2 separate regions of the Homo sapiens genome follow, and region 1 is linked to region 2. A link means that fine-mapping ties the variant in region 2 to the expression of a gene that starts in the linked region. Tissue or cell type: whole blood. Region 2 holds a variant in brackets; the other region holds the start of a gene. All regions are shown on one strand. Distances are between the middles of the regions. Region 1 holds the start of LINGO2 (leucine rich repeat and Ig domain containing 2). Region 2 has its middle 53 kb from the start of LINGO2.

Evidence for each region. PIP is the estimated chance that this variant, and not a neighbour inherited with it, causes the effect.
Region 1: LINGO2 starts here. The variant in region 2 is fine-mapped to the expression of LINGO2 in whole blood (TOPMed, PIP above 0.99).

What each region holds. Positions count from the first base shown.
Region 1 is chr9:29,208,570-29,218,730 of GRCh38, reverse strand. LINGO2 (leucine rich repeat and Ig domain containing 2) reads left to right here and starts at 5,130. Exons shown (of 7, transcript NM_001258282.3): 1 at 5,130-5,809. RefSeq lists a silencer at 6,490-6,539.
Region 2 is chr9:29,261,905-29,272,065 of GRCh38, reverse strand. No RefSeq gene overlaps it. Among named protein-coding and RNA genes, the nearest start is that of LINGO2, 53 kb to the right of the region's middle. The variant CA/A (reference allele first, on the strand shown) is at 5,588.

The DNA of each region.
Region 1 (10,161 bases), 53 kb after region 2:
CATAAAGCCTCCAAGTGAGGCGTGCATGGTTCCTCATACAGTTGGTAATGCTTCAATTATAAAACATCTCCATTTTATACCCCAGCACTGCAAACACTATATGCCATTTTCCAGGAAGCCATCCCTTATAAATTCTGGTTCTATCTATTATAGGTAATCCTTAGTCAGATATCCTACTAAGGGCCCAAAGACAACCCTCTTCCTTCTAGCAAATACCATTAGTCTATTTACCCAGGGGAGGTAGAATTGACAAGGAGATTAGACCTGCTCACTTGTTATGGACTAAACGTTGTACCTTCTTCCCACCCCAAATTCATGTGCTGAAGCTCTAACATCTAATGTGGTGGTGTGTAGAGATGAGACCTTTGGGAGGTAATTAGGGTTAGACAGGTCATGTGAGTGGGACCTTCATGATAGGATTAGTTGCTATATAAACTGTGGCTGAAATGTCTCTGTTTCTTTTTCTCTCTTCCCCCCAACACACACTGAGAAAAGGCCATGTGAGGACATAGTTAGAAGGCAGCTGTATGCAGGCTAGGAAAAGAGCCATCACCAAGAACCAAATTGGCTAGCATCTTAATCTTGGCCTTCCAAGAACTGTGAAAAATGTTTCTCACAGAACTCCAGAACTGTGAGAAATACATTCCTACTATTTAAGCTACCCATGCGGTGGTATTTTGTTACAGTAGTCTGAACTAAGAAACCCCTTTTTGCTTCTTTCCCTCAAGGTCTCTCCCTGGCAGGAGTAAATGAGCAAATGTATTGCAGGCCAGGTTATTTCACAACTTTCACCTACCCTTTTTAAAAACAACAACAACAACAGCAACAAACATCTTTTTTAAGTAAAAGGCGGAGATACATCTGTTATACTTTTCTTTCCATGCAACCCCTCAAAGGCACTCTTTTATTTTATAAGGTAAAACTTACACACGGTTCCAAAATCAAAAGAACATAAAAAGTCTAACCTCTACCTTTGATACCATCTGCCCACTTACACCATGACCCCAACCAATTTTATTAATTTTTGGAGACAACACCTTGCTTCACCTTGCAATTTTCACCTAAAAATATCATGGAGACCTTTTTATACCAATTAAGGAGAATTTCCTCATTATTTTACATAGCAGCTTAATCTTCCATGATATGGATATTTTGTATTTGTACTGTAATGATCCAAGGTATAAAAGATGTTTTATAATATGAGCTGTTGAAATTGACAACTATAACACATTTCTATGGCATGTTCCTATGTCATTCTGTATTCAGTGTTGTCTGTGTTCTGAGGCTTTTATTTTTATTAGTTTTAAAATTGTGGCAATTAGCCAACATGAGATCTGTCCTCTTAATACATTTTTAAGTGTATAATACAGTATGGTTAATTATAGGCACATTATTGTACAATAGATCTCTAGAATTTATTCATCTTACACAACTGAGATTTTATAATAGCCTCCTCTGTTTTACATAAGAGTATCAACATGGAAGTAAACAATAAAAAGTTTTCTATATCCATAAAATTCCCAATGGCCTGACTCCCCTCTCTGAAAGGAAACCCATAACTCAGCATTTGGCATTCCCATGAAAATAATGCCAAGAAGACACTCTCCTATTTTAACCCAATAAGAGAAGTAAACTGGTCCTGTGTTTTGATACTCAAATAGATATTGACTCGATTGCATGAGAGGTAAGGAACTCATTTTTAAATTTGCCTCTTTTTAGCATTAACAACATATAAATTCCTTTTAGCCTTGAATAATTGAAAATGTGGGGACCTGGCTATTTGAACAGAGCAAAATGATGAATAGTGCAGGCTTCAGAGTCAGAAAGATACTGTGTAGGTTCCATACTTAATTGTGACAAAACAGATTTGTCACCTTAGGTAAATTTGCATAAGCCTCAATCTCCCTGTAATTTGAGGACATAAAATTTAGGTAAGCAGGTTGTAAACAGGATCAACTGATATAATGTACATAAATCACATTACATAGTCATTAAGTCATTACTCAATACATGGTCGCTTTCATCATCATCATCATCATCATATACATCTATTTTATTGTGTACTAGATTCTGTATAGATTCTGGGGAACAACAATGTAAATGACAAGATCCGTGCTCTCAGAGCTCACAGTACAGTAGCAAAGGCATACCAGTAAAGAAAGAATAGCTTTTATCTATGAAAAGACAGTACACCAATAGACTGAATGCTATGCTCTAGAGAAGTAAAAGGTGTTCTGAAAATGGCAGTTTGTAGAGAAATGATCTTAAGGAGGGAAAAGGATCAAGATGTTTCCATTGGAAGAGATATCATATATTTCAAATTCAATTATCAGAAAACATAAATACATAGACAACACTGGAATAATGCTGTAGTTATTTTAATTTGGTGGTGAAATCAGATTCTTGGATCTGACAGTATCTTTGAGTCTCAATAGTTTCTTTTCAATTCCATAGATAGACCTAAGGGTAGCGGGAATGGGGTACATCCTCTGATCCTGAGGTTTGCTCTCCTTGTTTGTTAAATAATTTCCCCCATAAAAGCAAAATGTAAAAGGCGAGGGGGAAAAGGGTGATCCTTATCCTCTTCCATTTTTTGAACAGGATCCATAAATCTACAGGTTTTTATTATTTTTTTTGAGGGTGCTTAAATGTCAAGAATATTATGCTATGGATTACCACTACTGCATACACATCGCATACATCAAAAACTCAAAGCAAGTAAAAAGACTTCGCCATGGCTGGTACAAGACTTTCCACAACATTTCCTACCACTGTAAGGCACCCTTCACGTATTAAAGTTAATGAATATGTAAATAACCTATGTTTACTTTAAACAGAAACTTCAGTTGCAGACAGTGGCCTGCATACCAACAGCAACCAAGAAAGGAATTTGAAGTCACAACCTTTTTGGAGAGGAGTCGCTCTAAATTCTGAATTTTCTTGAACCAAGTGAGTCTCTTCATTACAGCTCTGCAATTCATGCCTAATAGTCTGCAGAATATTTTATTGGTAATTGATAGGCTTATACAATCAGAAATCATAAGTTAAAGATGGCCTTTTGTTGGAAATAGTTTATTATAATTCTTATTCCCACTTCATTATCAGGAACAGTCATTTATTAATTAGGAATAAGAATTAGAACTCGAAGAGGCATCAAATATTGCGGCACGCAGACAATGTATAGATTCATACCAGGTTCCAAAATACTGCCGAACATCCTCCTCTTGAAAGGCTGCAAAAGAGTCACTGTCGAAGATACATTTTAGGACATCAAACCTAAAAACTCAATCCTGGCAAACTAATACACACGCAAACAAAATGCCTCTTTTTATTCCTTAGCACCTCATCACCGATTTCATTATTCACTTCTTCAGGCAAGCTGCGCGGGTTAGCTTCAAGCTCTTCCCTTAATTGCACCAGAAGTTAAGTCTGGGCGTTGGACATACACACTCTAAATCCTTACGCGTGGGTCTGTCTGTGAACAGCCCGGAGCAGCGGAGCAAGTTAGTGGGAGGGTATCGCCAACTGTCTGCTCGCTCCAAGTGGCAGCCTTCATGGATCCATCACCCCTAAACCCACAGCCCCTGTCACTGCCTCTGCACTGAGTCGGCTCAAACAGAATCCAAAGCAGGTTCATCCCTGAAATTCAGACTTGCGCCTGAAGTTACCGGTCCGGAGCCCCTGGGAGCCGCAACGCTCACTGTGGAATGCTCTGGATCGATTTCAGAGCTGTGAGTAGCGCTGCTAGAGGTCATCCTACAAGTTTCATCTTTTGTATTAAATCTTCACTTCTGCGCTCTGCGACTCCACGTTTGCCGCTCAGGAACTCGGTTCCCGGCAAAGTCAACCGCCTTCCAATTTGGAGAGGGACAGTCAAGAACTCCCTTGATTTTGAGGAGATTCTCGATGGAGACGGCGGCGGTGGGTGGCGGAGCGGAGCATCCAGCGCCAGAGCAAAGGAACCTGGTGCCATCTCCAAGCTGGGCAACTTTGCGTTTTCCGCTAGCAGGTCCGAAGCCATAGATATTCGCGAAGCCCCAGAGGGCAGAAATCCTCAGCAATCCTCTGTCTCACAGTTGAAAAGGCAGAGTAGCGCTCTGTTGCAATAGAAACTACGCGGAGCACAAATGCAAGCTTTGGTTAAAAAAAGCACAAAAAACAAAAAAACAACGGGCAAAAGTTTACTCTCTGTAAGCAATTAATTCCTGCAGCCCATTCCGGGTAAAACAAACTCCTCTTGGGAAGCTCCTTTCGTGGGAGTTGTGGATGACACGGGGGCGCTTCTGAGAGCGAAGTCTCTCCTGCCTGGGACGCCCCAGCGGTGTAGCACCCAGTGATCCCTCCCGACCGTCGAGGGAAGAAAAAGAAGTTGGGACAGGAGCTAGCCAGAGACCCGGACAGCTACTCCTGGTGCAAAACCTTGGAAATGGCTGCTAAAGGGGTTGGGTCTCCAGACTCCTAATCCCTCCCCTTTCTCCAGCTGAGCCGTTCACCTGCTACCGTCCAGTTTACAATATAAGCGTAGCACCTAAATTAACCCAGTTCCAAAAGCTAGGCACTACAATTCCCTAAGAAATTCATTTTCAAAACATCTAAGCGACTTTCGGGAGCTCCTTGGGGGAAATGTTACGAAGGGAGTGGGCAGGTAAAGACGGGATGCGAGGGGATTATGTTCACGAAGCGATGTGTAGGCTCCTCTATTCGAAGGACCTCGGGGAGCCCCTCAGCTCCCAGGAGAGCTGCTGCAGCCACTTCAATTCTCCACTACAGAAGGGGCGGAGGTGGCCCCTGGAGGGTGGCGATGGGAACGGGGCTCATCTTTAGTCTGGTGGCCTCTCGCTGGGTGTCGAGGGGGTGTAACTGGCTTCAAGAAAAGAGCTAGGGAGTTGAAATGCCAGACAGGGCAGAGAACGGAGAGGTGGCCCAACGGACTTAACGGCGTGCGGCGAGGAACTGCCTGCCGGCAATCCGCTAACTAGTGAGGATTGATTGACTCTTTCTGTCATCAGCATCCTTGGAACCCCTACCCCTCCTCAGGACTCCCGACTTTTCGCTCGCCACTGGCCGGGGGCCGCGGGCGCAGGGCTGGGCGTGCGTGTGTAGCTGCGCGCGCGCGGGTGTGCGCGCCTGTGTGTGTGCGCAGCCCGAGCTCTGAGCCCGGCTGCCAAGCCCCAGCCGGCTATCCTGCGTCCCGCCTTGCAGCCGCCTCCTCAAAGCCTCCTCACCTGGCGCCGCCGCCCGCCGCCCGCCCAGCCCCGCACCGGCGCTGCCTCCCCTGAAAGTTTCCCCAGCGTAGACACCTTCGCGCTGCAGCAGCCCAGGGAGACGGTGTTCCGAAGCTGTGCCTTGGAGTGGCTCTTCTTACACCTTTCCGCCTCATCCCCACCTAATTCGGGCAGGGAGTAGAAATTTTTCCAAATTAAGGGGAGAAAGGGGGGAGGGGCATTATCGAGAGAAAGCAAGAGGAGCGGCCGCAACTGAGAATATCCTGCCTGATGCCAGGGAATTGACTGACGTGTCTGTGGGGTTACGGAAGAAAACTGAATAGGCAGCCAAGTTGGCCCAGGAGGGGCTGGGAGGCTTCCGGGTGCCGGGAAGGTGGTCCCGGTCTCCATTTCCACTGGTACGAAGGCTTGGAGGCGCCTCTATGGTGAGGGCTTTTGAACCGCCATCCCCTCCTGATCCCTTGGAAAGGAGGAGCCTTCAGAGCTGAGGAGGGGGAAGTCCAGGAAAAGCCCCTGGACTTGTGTGCGTCGCATCCTTGGCTTGGGATTTTAAGGACACGAAGGAGAATTAACAGCGCCTCAAGGTAAGAGGCAGCAAAGCTGCTGCTTGAATTGCCAGAGACAATAACTTAAAATAGATGTTGGGGATGGGGTGGGGGTTAAGTCAAGTTAGGAGGATCTCTCCGGGCGTCGCTACGCGATCGCACGACCCGCCTGGCAAGTCAGGGAGTAGCCGGTGCGGCGCTGCCCAGCTGCGAGGCAGGAAGCCAGAGGAGTGTCCTGTCCTCACACTTTCTGAAACCTATTGGAAAACGATTTCGGACTGGGTTCTCTGTGGAGGTTGATATACAGCGTGGATTTGGGTTTTGGGTTTTCGTTTTTTTACCAGAGAGGTTTTTTTTTTAAATTTTTATTAGCACCGCAGACCCACCCCCAATTGCCATAGAGAGCTGTGGGCACCGGTGAACGCAACTAGGACGCGGTGGCAGGTGAGCCTGGCGCAGGTGGGCAGGTGGGGGCGGCGGCGGCACCCGGCCTGCGGACTCGGGGGCGCGCGAAGCCCACGCTGCCGCTTGGCCGGCTCCCTGCAACCGGCGTCGGAACCTGGGCGCCGCAGGTCGCCTGCTGTTCCCTTCGCCTCCGCTAGAGGCTCCCAGCGGGCGCCGCGGAGCGGGTGGGTGTGGGGGCGCCAGGAGGCGGCGGGGTGAGCGCGGAGAGCCAGCGTGCTCGCGGGGTGGCGGAGCCCGCGCGGCAGGGGCGGGGGACGTGAGCGGCAGTCCCGGCGCGCTTCCGAGCTCCGCACCGCGCCGCGGGGACGCAGGTCCGAACCCGGCTGAGCTCTGGAAAGCTGTGCCTTGAACTGGAGCCACTTCGGGGATGAGATCCTGACCCGCACCCTGAGGGCAGCCCCGGGAGGTAATGCCCTCTTTCTCCTCCACTCTCCTTTCGCCTCTTGGTTCTCTGTAAATTCTCAGTCAGATACTCAGGGTGGGAGGGAGTGAAGGGTGAGAGAGAGTCTATAGGGTCTGTATCTAAAAAAGGTGCCTTTCAGTGTTGCTCCGTGGTGCTCTGTTGTATGTGTATTCGAACTAATGCCCAATTTCCCCCGCCTCCCTTGAATATTTGGCTGCTTTAAGGGAAGTTTTTTGCGGAGAACGCTGGGTGGTTGGTCTGGGCCAGGCTGCTCCGAGGTGAGCTAGGGGACCTGCTGTGCCCGCTTTGAGCCGCAGTAGACTGGAGTGCAAGACTCCAGGGATGGGGTGTGGTGGAGAAAACGAGTACCACACCCTCTTCTTTTCCTCTTCACCTGCTGGTGAAGTCTCCCCATTCAGCATTTTGCTGATTTCCTTTTCCGAGGGATTGGCTCAGAGAACTGAGGAAAGCTGCTGAAATACTTGGAGGGAGGGAGGGAGAGAGAGAGAGAGAAGAGAAGAGAAGAGAAGAGAAGGATGAGAAGGAAGTCATGGTCTGAGCATCAGAAGAGGAAGGAGGGCGAAGTTAAGCTTGTGTGTTTGAGGTGGGGGAGTGAGTGCTGGGAAATGGCCTTGGAGTTCAGTTTATTTGATGAAGTCAGATTCACTTCACATTTCACACTTTGACATAATCCAGTTTGCTGAAGCCACCTAACAGATATTATCTGTGCTGTGTACTGCCTTGGGCTCAGTGGGCACTGAATATGTTTGATGAGTGTGTCTAAGCAATAGATAAATAAATAAATGAAAGAGTGCTTATTGTGTTTGCTTGGTGTGATTACCCCCGTGTCTGTCAGCCGGTAATGTATGTATTTTTCAGCGTGCTGTGCTGTGTTTGTGCATACCATATGTGGTCATTTTACACTCAGTAATGCAGTTTCAGGGTCTTGGAAAGGTGGCTCTTAACAAAGACGAATATTTAGAATAATACTAAAGGAAGACCAAAAATTACCATCGGGTGTGGAATATTCCAGGAATACTGAATAGAAGCTGAGATCCATCATTGGTGAAAATATTGGGCCACATACTGAAAGGGCAAAAAATATTTTTCAGAAATTAGAAGCAGTGGTTAACATTTTAAAAGAAGGAGATGTTCTTTAGGGTTCTGTCACCATCACCCAGTAGCATGCGTTACTCCCAATACAGTTGGAGTGTGAGGAAGAAAAAAAAATGTACTTCCTGTTCAAAACCAGTAAAATGTTTTGAGATCTGCCAGGTATTTCACCTTAAGAATTTAAATGGAATGGATTGCCTATTGATGGCAGAAGTGGTTTAGTTATGTAAGGCATCTATTATTTTTGATTAAGGTACATATATGTTAATATTTTTATATAATTTTACTGTAGTGGGAATGGAAGCAGGACAATTTATTGATGTTTTTCATTGCTGAATAACACATAGCATTATCTCAGGGAAGATTTATATAAAGTTTGTCATTCATGTATTATAGTGGATGATGCTCTGTGTGGAAGGCAAGAATATATATCTTGATGAAGTCCCAAAAAGGATCGTTTGTGTTCTTAAAATACAGTATTTTAGAAATTTTTATGGTGTGAAAAAGTGATACTCATCTGAATATAGGTACAACTTATATATACACTAATCATTTATTTGTTGAATTAAATTAACAAAGACATACATATTTAGGGCTCAAATGTATTTCTGAAAGACACCTCTAAAACCAAAGGAAGATCTGCTATTAAGACTCTGTGTATATGATGTATAAGGGAAGTTTTCTTTCTTGACATTTAATCTAATTAAACTGGTGAGGCTGGTTTGTAATCTCGAGTCAGTTTTAGGACTCCATCTCTAAAGATGCTTTCCTCTCTAATAAATGTGATTTTAAAAGAGACCAAACATTAAAATGTTCCACAGCTGTCATGGACCAGAAAACCATTTGAGTCCTCTGCAACTTCATGTCAAGAATAAGAAGTGATAGGAAGTTGTCACAAATTAATTGGCTTGATACTTCAATTAAAAACTGATTATGATCTGGCTCTGGTAGTCATTATGGTTGATTTCGTTTGGTCTCTAGATATTCTGTGAAAGGACTCTAGGTGGAAATGTTTTCCTGTAGTACAAGGAGAGGAGGTCACTATATGCAAAGAGGTTTGTCAGTTACTGATTCTCCAATTTGGTTGTGTTGTATCCTTAAGGAAGCATGTTAGATTGAAAAAAAATCCATTTTCTCAATTTATGTAAATATTTCTCTTTGTCATAGCCCTCAACCAACCTCTGAGTACTGTATTTATAATTTTGTTGAAATATGTCACCAAGCCTCTTCCCTTTATGGTTTAGGGGCTACTTTGATGTTAATAACTTTAAAAACTATTCAAGCATAAAATACCGTATTTCCTGAAAGAAAATAAATTAAATTTAAAAAGGGTTTGGGGTAAGGAAATTAAGGGAGAATATGAGGGAAAGGTTAAATTCCAGGTATCAGGCTTACCCATCTAATGGCATATACTTCTGTGATTTTTCTGTTATGCTTCTAAAGAAATCCTTCCTTCCTTCCTTCCTTTTCTTCTTCCCTCTTTTTCCTTTAAAATATTTCCTTCAGAATTAAATCCATGCTAATTTACAGTTACTTTATAATGGTCAGTCCATAATTTACTTTTAAGTGGGTGATAGTCTTAAAATACTAAGATTGTTGCATTTATTTTTTAATTTTATACAAAAATTGACTAGAAGGTGGGTTTGGGTCTTTAGGGAGTTCGAGTCATCAGTTTATTATCGTCTCTTAAATTGTAAATGCATCTTGTGTCTCGCTGCAACTTCACTGCCTTTCGTTTCTGGAAAGTGTAAAAGCATGGATAGGTATTCATTTGACATAGGTGGACAGCCTAAGAACATGGTGCGTTTGTGCTTTGAGTGGCTTATTTTCATATGATTAATACTCTGTGAACAAATTGGCCAATGTAATCAAATATGTAATGTTCATATTCAGCAAGTAGTAGAGTGACATTTGTCAGTGTATATTGGTTCAGAAATAAGTATCATATTTTAGGAAACCTTAGCTTCATCTAAACCTTCATAAAAGTTACTTTTTAAAAAAAGGATTATCACTCAACAGATACAGTTGCTGTATCTATTCTTAAATGTCCTCAAGAGAGAAGATCCTAGTTCTAAAAATCTCCCAAGAGAAACTAATCCAGTGCCACTGGGAGGCAGCATGAATAAATAGAAAAAGCAGTGGATCTGACACCAGAAGACTTGAATTCCACTGTGTTTCTCATGACTAGCAGTGTCTTCTTTGAAAAGCTGTCTTATTTTTTCTAAGGCTCAGTGTTGATTTCTGTACAATGGGAATGTTTAATATCTACCTACTCTATGTTTAAAAATTGATAACAGCTAGCTTTAAGCATTGGAAAAAGAAAAACAGAACTTTCAGGTGCCAAGTAAATGTAGCGCTTGATAGAAGAATAAATAAAATATATTTAAAGAATGCTTGTAAAACTTCAGTA
Region 2 (10,161 bases):
GGTTGAAAATTCGTTTCTTTAAGAATGTTGAATATTGGCCCCCACTCTCTTCTGGCTTGTAGAGTTTCTGCCAAGAGATCAGCTGTTAGTCTGATGGGCTTCCCTTTGTGGGTAACCCGACCTTTCTCTCTGGCTGCCCTTAACATTTTTTCCTTCATTTCAACTTTGGTGAATCTGACAATTATGGGTCTTAGAGTTTCTCTTCTCGAGGAGTATCTTTGTGGCGTTCTCTGTATTGCCTGAATTTGAATATTGGCTTGCCTTGCTAGGTTGGGGAAGTTCTCCTGGATAATATCCTGCAGAGTGTTTTCCAACTTGGTTCCATTCTCCCCGTCACTTTCAGGTACACCAGTCAGATGTAGATTTGGTCTTTTCACACAGTCCCATATTTCTTGGAGGCTTTGTTCATTTCTTTGTATTCTTTTTTCTCTAAACTTCTCTTCTCACTTCATTTCATTCATTTGGTCTTCCATCACTGATACCCTTTCTTCCAGTTGATCGCATCGGCTACTGAAGCTTGTGCATTCATCGTGCAGTTCTCGTGCCATGGTTTTCAGCTCCATCAGGTCATTTAAGGACTTCTCTACATTGGTTTTTCTAGTTACCCATTTGTCTAATTTTTTTGAAGGTTTTTAACTTCTTTGAGATTGGTTCGAACTTCCTCCTTTAGATCAGAGTAGTTTGATTGCCTGAAGCCTTCTTCTCTCAAATCATCAAAGTCATTCTCCGTTCAGCTTTGTTCCATTGCTGGTGAGGAGCTGCATTCCTTTGGAGGAGGAGAGGTGCTCTGATTTTTAGAATTTTCAGTTTTTCTGCTCTGTTTTTTCCCCATCTTTGTGGTTTCATCTACCTTTGGTCTTTGATGATGGTGACGTACAGATGGGGTTTTGGTGTGGATGTCCTTTCTGTTTGTTAGTTTTCCTTCTAACAGTCAGGACCCTCAGCTGCAGGTCTTTTGGAGTTTGCTGGAGGTCCACTCCAGACCCTGTTTGCCTGGGTATCAGCAGTGGAGGCTGCAGAACAGCGAATATTGCTGAACAGCAAATTTTGTTGCCTGACCGTTCCTCTGGAAGTTTCGTCTCAGAGGGGTACCCAGCCGTGTGAGGTGTCAGGCTGCCCCTACTGTGAGGTGCCTCCCAGTTAGGCTATTTGAGGGTCAGGGACCCACTTGAGGAGGCAGTCTGACCATTCTCAGATCTGAAACTCCACACTGGGAGAATCAGTACTCTCTTCAAAGCTGTCAGACAGGGACATTTAAGTCTGCAGAGGTTTCTGCTGCCTTTTGTTCGGCTATGCCCTGCCCCCAGAGGTGGAGTCTATAGAGGCAGGCAGGCCTCCTTGAGCTGTGGTGGGCTCCAACCAGTTTGAGCTTCCTGGCTGCTTTGTTTACCTACTCAAGCCTCAGCAATAGCAGGCGCCCCTCCCCCAGCCTCGCTGCTGCCTTGCAGTTCAATCTCAGACTGCTGTGCTAGCAATAAGTGAGGCTCCGTGGGCATGGGACCCTCTGAGCCAGGCGCAGGATATTACCTCCTGGTGTGCCGTTTGCTAAGACCGTCGGAAAAGCACAGTATCAGGGTGGGAGTTACCCAATTTTCCAGGTGCTGTCTGTCACAGCTTTGCTTTCCTAGGAAAGGGAATTCCCTGACCCTTTGTGCTTCCTGGGTGAGGCAATGCCTCGCCCTGCTTCAGCTCACGCTCGTTGTGCTGCACCCACTGTCCAACAAGTGCCAGTGGGATGAACCCGGTACCTCAGTTGGAAATGCAGAAATCACCCATCTTCTGTGTCGCTCACGCTGGGAGCTGTAGACTGGACCTGTTCCTATTCGGCCATCTTGGAACCGCCCTTAATTTTGATTTTCTAAAAGACTTAGAGAACCAGCATGAGCAAACATGTTACTTTCTAAAATGTTTAAGGATCTTAGTGCCTAGACTTGGATTAACAGTAATCGAATTGATCCACACGTGGCCTTCTTTTATGTATGTATGCATATGTTATTGAAAGTTATGTGATTGTTCACGTTAATTTAATAAACATTTGTGAACATACTACCCAAAATAAAGGTCAAGTTCTTGACTGTAATTCATTTCTGGCCTTATGGCCTTCACCTCTGCTTCCTCCATCACACCTGCTTCCTCTTCTCCTTCATCCAAATAAATCATTATCTGCATTCTTGAGTTCATCATTCTCTTACTTTTCTTTTTATGTTTTTTTAACTTATATGTTTCAATAGAGTATATTATTTTATTTGTTTTTAACTTTATTAAAAAGGATACATTAGTATGGATAACAATTTAGGATAATTTTTCATTTCACAATATACTATCCATGTTTTTTATATAATAAATTTTGCTATAATTTGTTCAAATTGTTTTTCCATATTCCATCATATAAATATGCAATATATTCATCAACTCTCCTGTTGATGAGCATACATGTTGTTTCTAAGGTTTTGCTGTTGTGAACAGTGTTGCTATAAACATTCTTGTACATGTCTTCTGGTATACATGCATCTGAGTTTCCCTTGGCTTTATAGATAGAATTGTTGGTTGGTTCATAGAATATGTCAACATCTAAACTGATAAGATAACGTGAAAGTGGTTGTAGCATTTTACAGCCCCGCAAGCAATTTATAAGAGATAGAAGGTGTATATGGCTTCCAACACTGCATACACTCAAGCTTTTTAAATTTTTGCCAATATAATGTGACTAAAGTGAAACCTCATAGTAGTCTTGATTTACATTGCCCTCACTTTGGATGAAGTTAAACATCTTATAACATGTTTACTAGCCATGTGTGTTTCCTCTGATGTGAAATGCCTTTTCATGCATTTGCCCCATTTTTTTTCTTTGAGTTGTTGATTTTTATCTACTAATTTGTATTTCTTTAGCTAGTCGTCATAAAATGTACTCGTTGGCTGTGTTTATTGCTGATTACTTCTCCCCATTTATAACATGTTTTCACTTAGGATTATTTTTGACAAGCCAAATTTCTTAATTTTAATATTGTCAAATATTGTCAGTGCTTTTTTGTGCTTAAAATATGTTCACCAATATGTTCTACTAAGATGCTCACAGTTTGTTTTTAATATTCAAGTCCTTAATTTATCTGGAGATGATTTTATTTTTGCAAGATAGCCATTTTTCCTGTTCCATTTTTTGAATCCTCCCACATTTTCTTACTGATAAGACAGGCCACTTCTGCTGTACCTAAATGTGAATGCATAAGCTTACTTCTTGATTTTCTGTTCTATTTCATCAGCCAGTTTTCTATCCCTGTGCCACTTACATACTATCTTTATTAGTAGAGTTTATAATTAAGTCCTGATAACTTGTGTGAAGGAAGATACAATACATTGTTTATTTATAACATAAAATATGAAACAAGAATCAAAATAAATGAATTATAGCTACTTACAACTATAGGTGTATATGTATACATATGTACAACTATATGTGCGTATATATATGTGTGTGTATATATATATATATGTATATATATAGTTGTAAGTAGCTGTAGCTTTCACCTCCAAGCAAAGAAAACTTCCCACACATTATTTTTTTCTTACAAGGGATAAAAGAGATGATTGTTTCTAGTAAAGGTGATGGGTACTTTTAGGTTTGAAGCTGAAGGCTGCATGTAGTATGATTAGATCTCTCAATGGATATTACAGCTTGACCTATGTGTACCTGTAGAATGGACAGTCTCAATGTGCAGGATAGTGAAGATGGATGCATCCTTGGGTGAAGAGCCCCAAGCACTGGGAACACTACCAAAACAGTTTTTGGCCAAGGCTTTTCCTTCAGCAGAGACAAGCAGCTTTAAGAGTCACTTCTGAGATTAAAATTCACTGGCCATGAGCAGTTGGAAGAGAAGTAGGGAAGGTAATTCTTGATGCTAGTAAATCTCTATCTATTTTTCTGGGCTCTTAGTTCCTACAAGACTGCTACACTGTGTTATTTTAGTCCTAAAGACACCTAGGTGAGCAAATGTGTCACCAAATGTGAGGGTAAGCATTGATTATCTCACTCAAAATACCTGATGGGAGGAAGTACGGGCAGAATTCTAAGAACACTCCTTTATTTTATTTTTTCTTCTTGAGAAGAAAGTATTAATCTGATCTTGTCAGGTACTTTCTATTCCTCCTTCTCCAAAAGTTAACCCCAAGGAAGGGCAGAGGATCAATTAGCTAAGATGCTGTATCTAACTACTTGGTACTCTCTCTCTCCCTCTCTCTCCTCTTCCCCACATCCACCCCTGCAATCTATTCCCCCAGCATAAAAAGAACATTATATTTCTCATTCTTTTATGGTAGAAACTGTTCTTAAGTCTTACGTCTTATTTGACCTTGGTAGTATTTGTTCTTCTCATTGGTAAGGCAAGTCCTTATGTCAAAAACTAATCATCATGGCAGAAGAAAAATACTGATAAGGAAAAAAATCTCGTAACACTTTAAAACATTATCCCACTACTTAGGAAGCAAATGTCTTGTGATACATTTTATAACTGTTTATGGTATGCTACTGTGTGGAAACATTATAGTTAAACACCACTGAACAAGTCCAACACCTTCATTCTCTAATGAATTAGTTGGGACCCTAAGAGATAAGGTAGAGTGATTCTCCCAATACTTCTCCATTTATTCTGTATTGCCTTTTCTCCCCTCCATTGCACCAAATTTTCTAAGAGGTGTGTCCAGATATCTGTCTACTGGGCCAGTTAAAGGCAAAATAATGAAATCAGTAAAACAAATATGACTGGCCTTCCCAGTTCATATAGCCTCTGTCCCTCCCTTTACATTTCCGTTTATACCAGCTATTTGATACCCTCAAATTTCAACACATACCTCTCTCCCAATCAAGCTATTTTCAAAACATTACACTACAATTAATAAAATCTTACAATGCAATATATTACTTCAAACTAGAACATTTTCATGAACATTTTCATAAACATTTTGCATTCCAAAAATTCAAATAAAATGTCCTGACATGGCTCAAATTTGAAGTCAGTGCCAAAAAATTTACTGCAGCCCGACAATTTTTGTGCTGCTGTCATACCTGGGAGATATTGTGGGTTCAGTTCCAGACCACCACACTAAAGTGAGCCACATGAACTTTTGATTTCCCAGTGCATAGAAAAGTTATGTACATAATATGCTATAGTCTATTAAATGTACAATCACATTATATTTAAGAAACAATTTAAGTACCTCAATTAAAATACTATATTGCTAAAAAAAAGCTAAGTATCATCTAATCTTCAGTGAGTCATAATGTTTTTGCTCGTGGAGGGTCCTGTCTGGAGGTTGATGTCTGCTGACTGGTCAGAGTGGTGGTTGCTGAAGGTTCTGGTCTCTGTGACAAATTCTTAAGTAATGAAACAATGAAGTGTGTCACTTATTGACTCTTTCATGAAAGATTTGCCTATCATTTGTGAAGCTGTTTGATAGCATTTTTATTCACAGTGGAACTTCTTTCAGAGCTGGAGTCAATATTCTCAAACACTGCTGCTGCTTTATCAACAAGGTTTATGTAATATTTGAAAGTTTTTTGAAGTCGTTTCAACAATGTTCACAGCATCTTCAC[CA/A]GGAGTATACCACTTCCTTTTCTCAAGCATAAGAAGAAACTCCTCATCCAAGTTTTATTATGAGATTGCAGCAGTTCAGTCAGATATTCAGACTTCACTTTTAATTCTAGTTCTCTTGCTATTTCCACCTTATCTGCAGTTACTTTCTCCACTGAAGTCTTGAATCTCTCAAAGTTATCCATGAGGGCTGGAATCAACTTCTTTAAACCCTTTAATGATGTTGATATTTTGACCTCCTCTCATGAATCATGAATGTTCTTCATGGCATCTGGAATGGCGAATCCTACCCAGAAGGTTTTCAATTTACTTTGCCAGATCCATCAGAGGAGTCACTATCTATGGCAGCTATAGCCTCATAAAATGTATTCTTAAAGTGTCAGTCATAGAAAATCAAAATTAATCCTTGATCCATAAACTACAAAATGGATATTGTGTTAGCAGGCATAAAAACAACATTAATCTCCATGTATATTTTCATTAGTGCTGTTGGGTGACCAGGTGCATTGTCAATGAGCAGTAATATTTTCAAAGGATAGATATGGACAGTGGACTTAAAATATTCAGTAAACCATGCTGTAAGCAGATGTGCCATCATACTGGCTTTGTTTTTTCATTTACAGAGCACAGGCACTGTAGATTTAGCATAATTCTTAAAGGCCCTAGGATTTTCAGAATTGTCAATAAGCATTGGCTTCAACTTAAAGTCACCAGCTGCATAAGCCCCTAGCAAGAGAGCTTGTCTTTTGAAGATTTGAAACCAGGCACTGACTTCTCCTGTCTAGTTATTAAAATCCTAGACAGCATCTTCTTGCAATAGACCACTGTGGCTGTTTTGTCTACATTGAAAGACTGTTTAGTATAGCCACTTTCATCAGTTCTTTTAGCTAGATCTTCTGGATTACTTGATACAGCTTCTACATCTCCACTTGCTGCTTCACCTTGCACTTTTATGTTATAGCAACAGCTTCTTTCCTTAAACTCATGAACCAACCTCTGCTAAGTTCAAACTTTTCTTTTTCAGGCTCCTCAACTCCCTCAGCCTTCAGAGAATTGAAGAGCATTAGGGTCTTGCTCTGGATTAGGCTTCGGTTTAAGGGCATGTTGTGGTTGGCTTGATCTTGTATGCAGACCACTGAAACTCTCTCCATACCAGCAATGACTGTATCATGTTTTTATCATTTGTATGTTCACTGCAGTAACATTTTTAATTTCCTTCAATAACTTTTTTTTTTTTTTTGCATTCACAACTTGGCTAACTGTTTGCTTCAAGAGGTTTAGCCTTCAGCCTGTCTCGGCTTTCAACATGTCTTCCTCACTAAGCTTAATTATTACTAGCTTTTGAATTAAAATCAGAGATGTGCAAATTTTCCTTTCACTCAAACACCTGGAGGCCTCTGTAGATTTATTATTTGGCATAATTTCAGTATTCTTGTGTTTTAGTGAATAGGGAAAGGGAGAGAGATGGGGGAACACCCAGTCAGTGGAGCAGTCAGAACATACATAATATTTATTAAGTTCACTATCTTATGTGGGTCCAGTTTGTATCACCCCCAAATAATTACAATAATAATGTCAAAGATCACTTATCACAGATGACCGTAACAGGCATAATAATAGTGAAGAGATTGAATATTGTGAGAACTACCAAAATGTGACACAGGAAGTGACCACATGATGTTGGAAAATGGCCACAATAGACTTGCTTGACACAGGGTTGCCATAAAGCATCAATTTGTAAAAATGCAGCATCTGCAAAATGCAATAAACTGAAGCACAATAAAACAAGATATGCCTGCCTTTTCAGGTCACACATATACTCCAGTCATATTTGTAACAATTTTAATGTATTGGAATTACAGATTTATCATAGCCAATTCTAATACAATAGAAAGTTTCATTAGATATTTAATTATAATATTAACTAAATGGATACTGTCCCAACTAAAATAACGTTATTCTTGAAATATAAATTCATTTAGAAAAGAAAGATCTGCTTTTGAGATAATAGGGTACTTTAAATTGTTATAAATAATTTTTTAAAATTAATATAATACCTATAAATAAGAAATTTAGTAAACCTGATTTTACAATAATTACAGTAATGAGCAAAGCAGCCCTATCCTCTTAAACATTTACAGGCTTGGAAAGAATTGTTTTGTGAAGGGTTGTATGTTAATTAGAGACTTGTAGCACATTAAACATGATGCCTTACAAACATATGTTTTAGTTTTTTCTTTTCCCACTTTGACACATTAATATGATAGTAACCAGAATTAGTAACATAGAAAGCCAAATTTAATAAGCCAAAGTCAAATTAGACTAAATCAATCAAATATATTCCTAATTTTAAAAAAACTTATATTTGCTGCTATATATTTTAAAATACTACTTAAAAATACTTGTCTATTGCTTTTTCACCTATTGCTCTTCTTTTTCCATCACTGAAAATCAGGGCCAGTCACTGTGATTTTATGATTGCTCTTCTAAAAGTTTCACAGGATAAAAGCACTTGACCTACATTTTCCTTTAGGCTCTTCCTTCTGAAACCTGAAAAAAAAAAATCAGAGTTCACAGTAAGAACAATAATTGTTCCTGCACCACCTATACCTTTATTCTCAAGGTTCTGCAATCAACTGTGATAGCATTTGAAGATACTAATCAGTCAGACTCTGAGATAATTGATTCCAGAAAAGATGCATGAATGACTTCCTTTCCATTTCTTTATATCTGTGTGTAGCTCCAAATAGAAAATTCAGTAACATCAATGACCCAAAACTCCTATGAATAGATGTGTTAACTCATAATATATAAAAAAGTAGAAAGCATGATGGAATTTGTGTTATACCATTAACATTTACACTTGTTTTTGAGAGAGGCTCTGGTTCAAGACACACTAGGCACAAAAGTTCTCTCCTTTCCTATCAAGAACCAAAGAACTTGAGGGTAGTGAGGATCTGGCTACAGGCTCTCCCACAGTTCTTTTTTGATTAGACCCTTTGATATGCCAACTTGAACCCTAAGAAGACCAGCCTAGAGATCTACATCTGAGACATAACAGAGATTCATGTCTCATCATGTACACAGGAATCACAGACCAGTATAAAATATACAGAATCTAGGTCTGCATAAAATATAGGTAATGAAGTTTTCTTACTTCTTCCATGTAAGTCTCCTAATGAAAGAACCTCAGGGTGCCATGTACACTCTCTTGTATACTACAAGCCCAGTTTAATTTTGGACATAACATTCTCATGAGCAGCTAATAATGTGTTGTCTATATTTTATTTATTTTTGTATTCCCAGCCCTTAATGTAATGAGTGCCACATAGTAGTAACATAAAGTTTAGGCAGAACTGAACAAAATAGAGATGTTCGCATATGCTATGGAATCACAAAGAATTAAAAATTACAAATATCTCTGCATTACAAAATGCCACCCAATCAATGAAATTATATTTATAAAACCCAAGGTATAAATTCTTAGCTGGAACATCCTCCCTAAAGGGAGAGTGAGTTATGATTTTTGAAATACTTGGGAGTAAATATTTTTAAAGTAGTCCTTATTTTATATGAAACAATCATATAGAATACTTGATACTAAAGTCAGAAGTAGAAAGAAAATCACAATGGAAATTCATAAAACCCACCAGTTTATGTAGATTTATTTATTTATTTATTTATTTTGACATTTTTTTTTTCTCCATGAAATCTCTGTTGCACTTGGAAAGGCTGTTACCTATCTTTAGGCAGGAACTTAGTGGTGTTCTTAAAAGAAAGATTGTCTCTGGGCACACAGAGTGCTTAGTTTGCCAGGATGGTTGACCTAACAATAAGAGTCTGGATAATTACACTCACAGTGTATTCAGCCTTATAATTCTCTGCATTGACAGGAAGGAAAAATAAATGTTTTCTGAACCAGTTGTCAAAAAGTTGCTCTCTTCGAACAAGCATAGTTTTACCTTAGCGCAGTTTTGAAATAGAAGGTAATACACTTTAGAATTTTCTTTACTAAGGTCATTTAGAATTAAGACAGTTTCTTGTCTGTCTGGACTTGTTTAATTCTGGCTTTACAAAAAAATGAGACAGAAGGTAGAATGCCATTTAGACAGCTTTTTCTACCCCAGTATATACATGACATTGTACCACCTATATCTCCCTTCAAGGTAATTTGTTGCCCAGATACACAGTGCAGTTGGCAGATGGCTTTCATCTGTCCCATCATTTAGGGTCTATCTCAGCTGCACTGACATACCTCAGCCTGATGAGGAACAACTCGGAGAGGCATGAATCACTGCCAGGTTTCCCTCTGAGTTAGCCAAGGCTTTGGAGAGCCTTCATCACAACTTCGCCCTCTGTCCAACAGTTCTTCTTCTTTCCTTTCGCAGGTATTGATACGTAATAAACCTCTTGAACCCTATAGTGTCTCAGCTTCCATTTCAGAGAAACTCAAATTGAGATCAGAGATATCAAAACTGGCCCAATAAAGTGGACAATAAGATGAGGTTTTTGGATTAATCAGTGTCCTGTTAAATGAGGACCCTGTCACTGGTGGTAGGGGGAACACACATTGTCC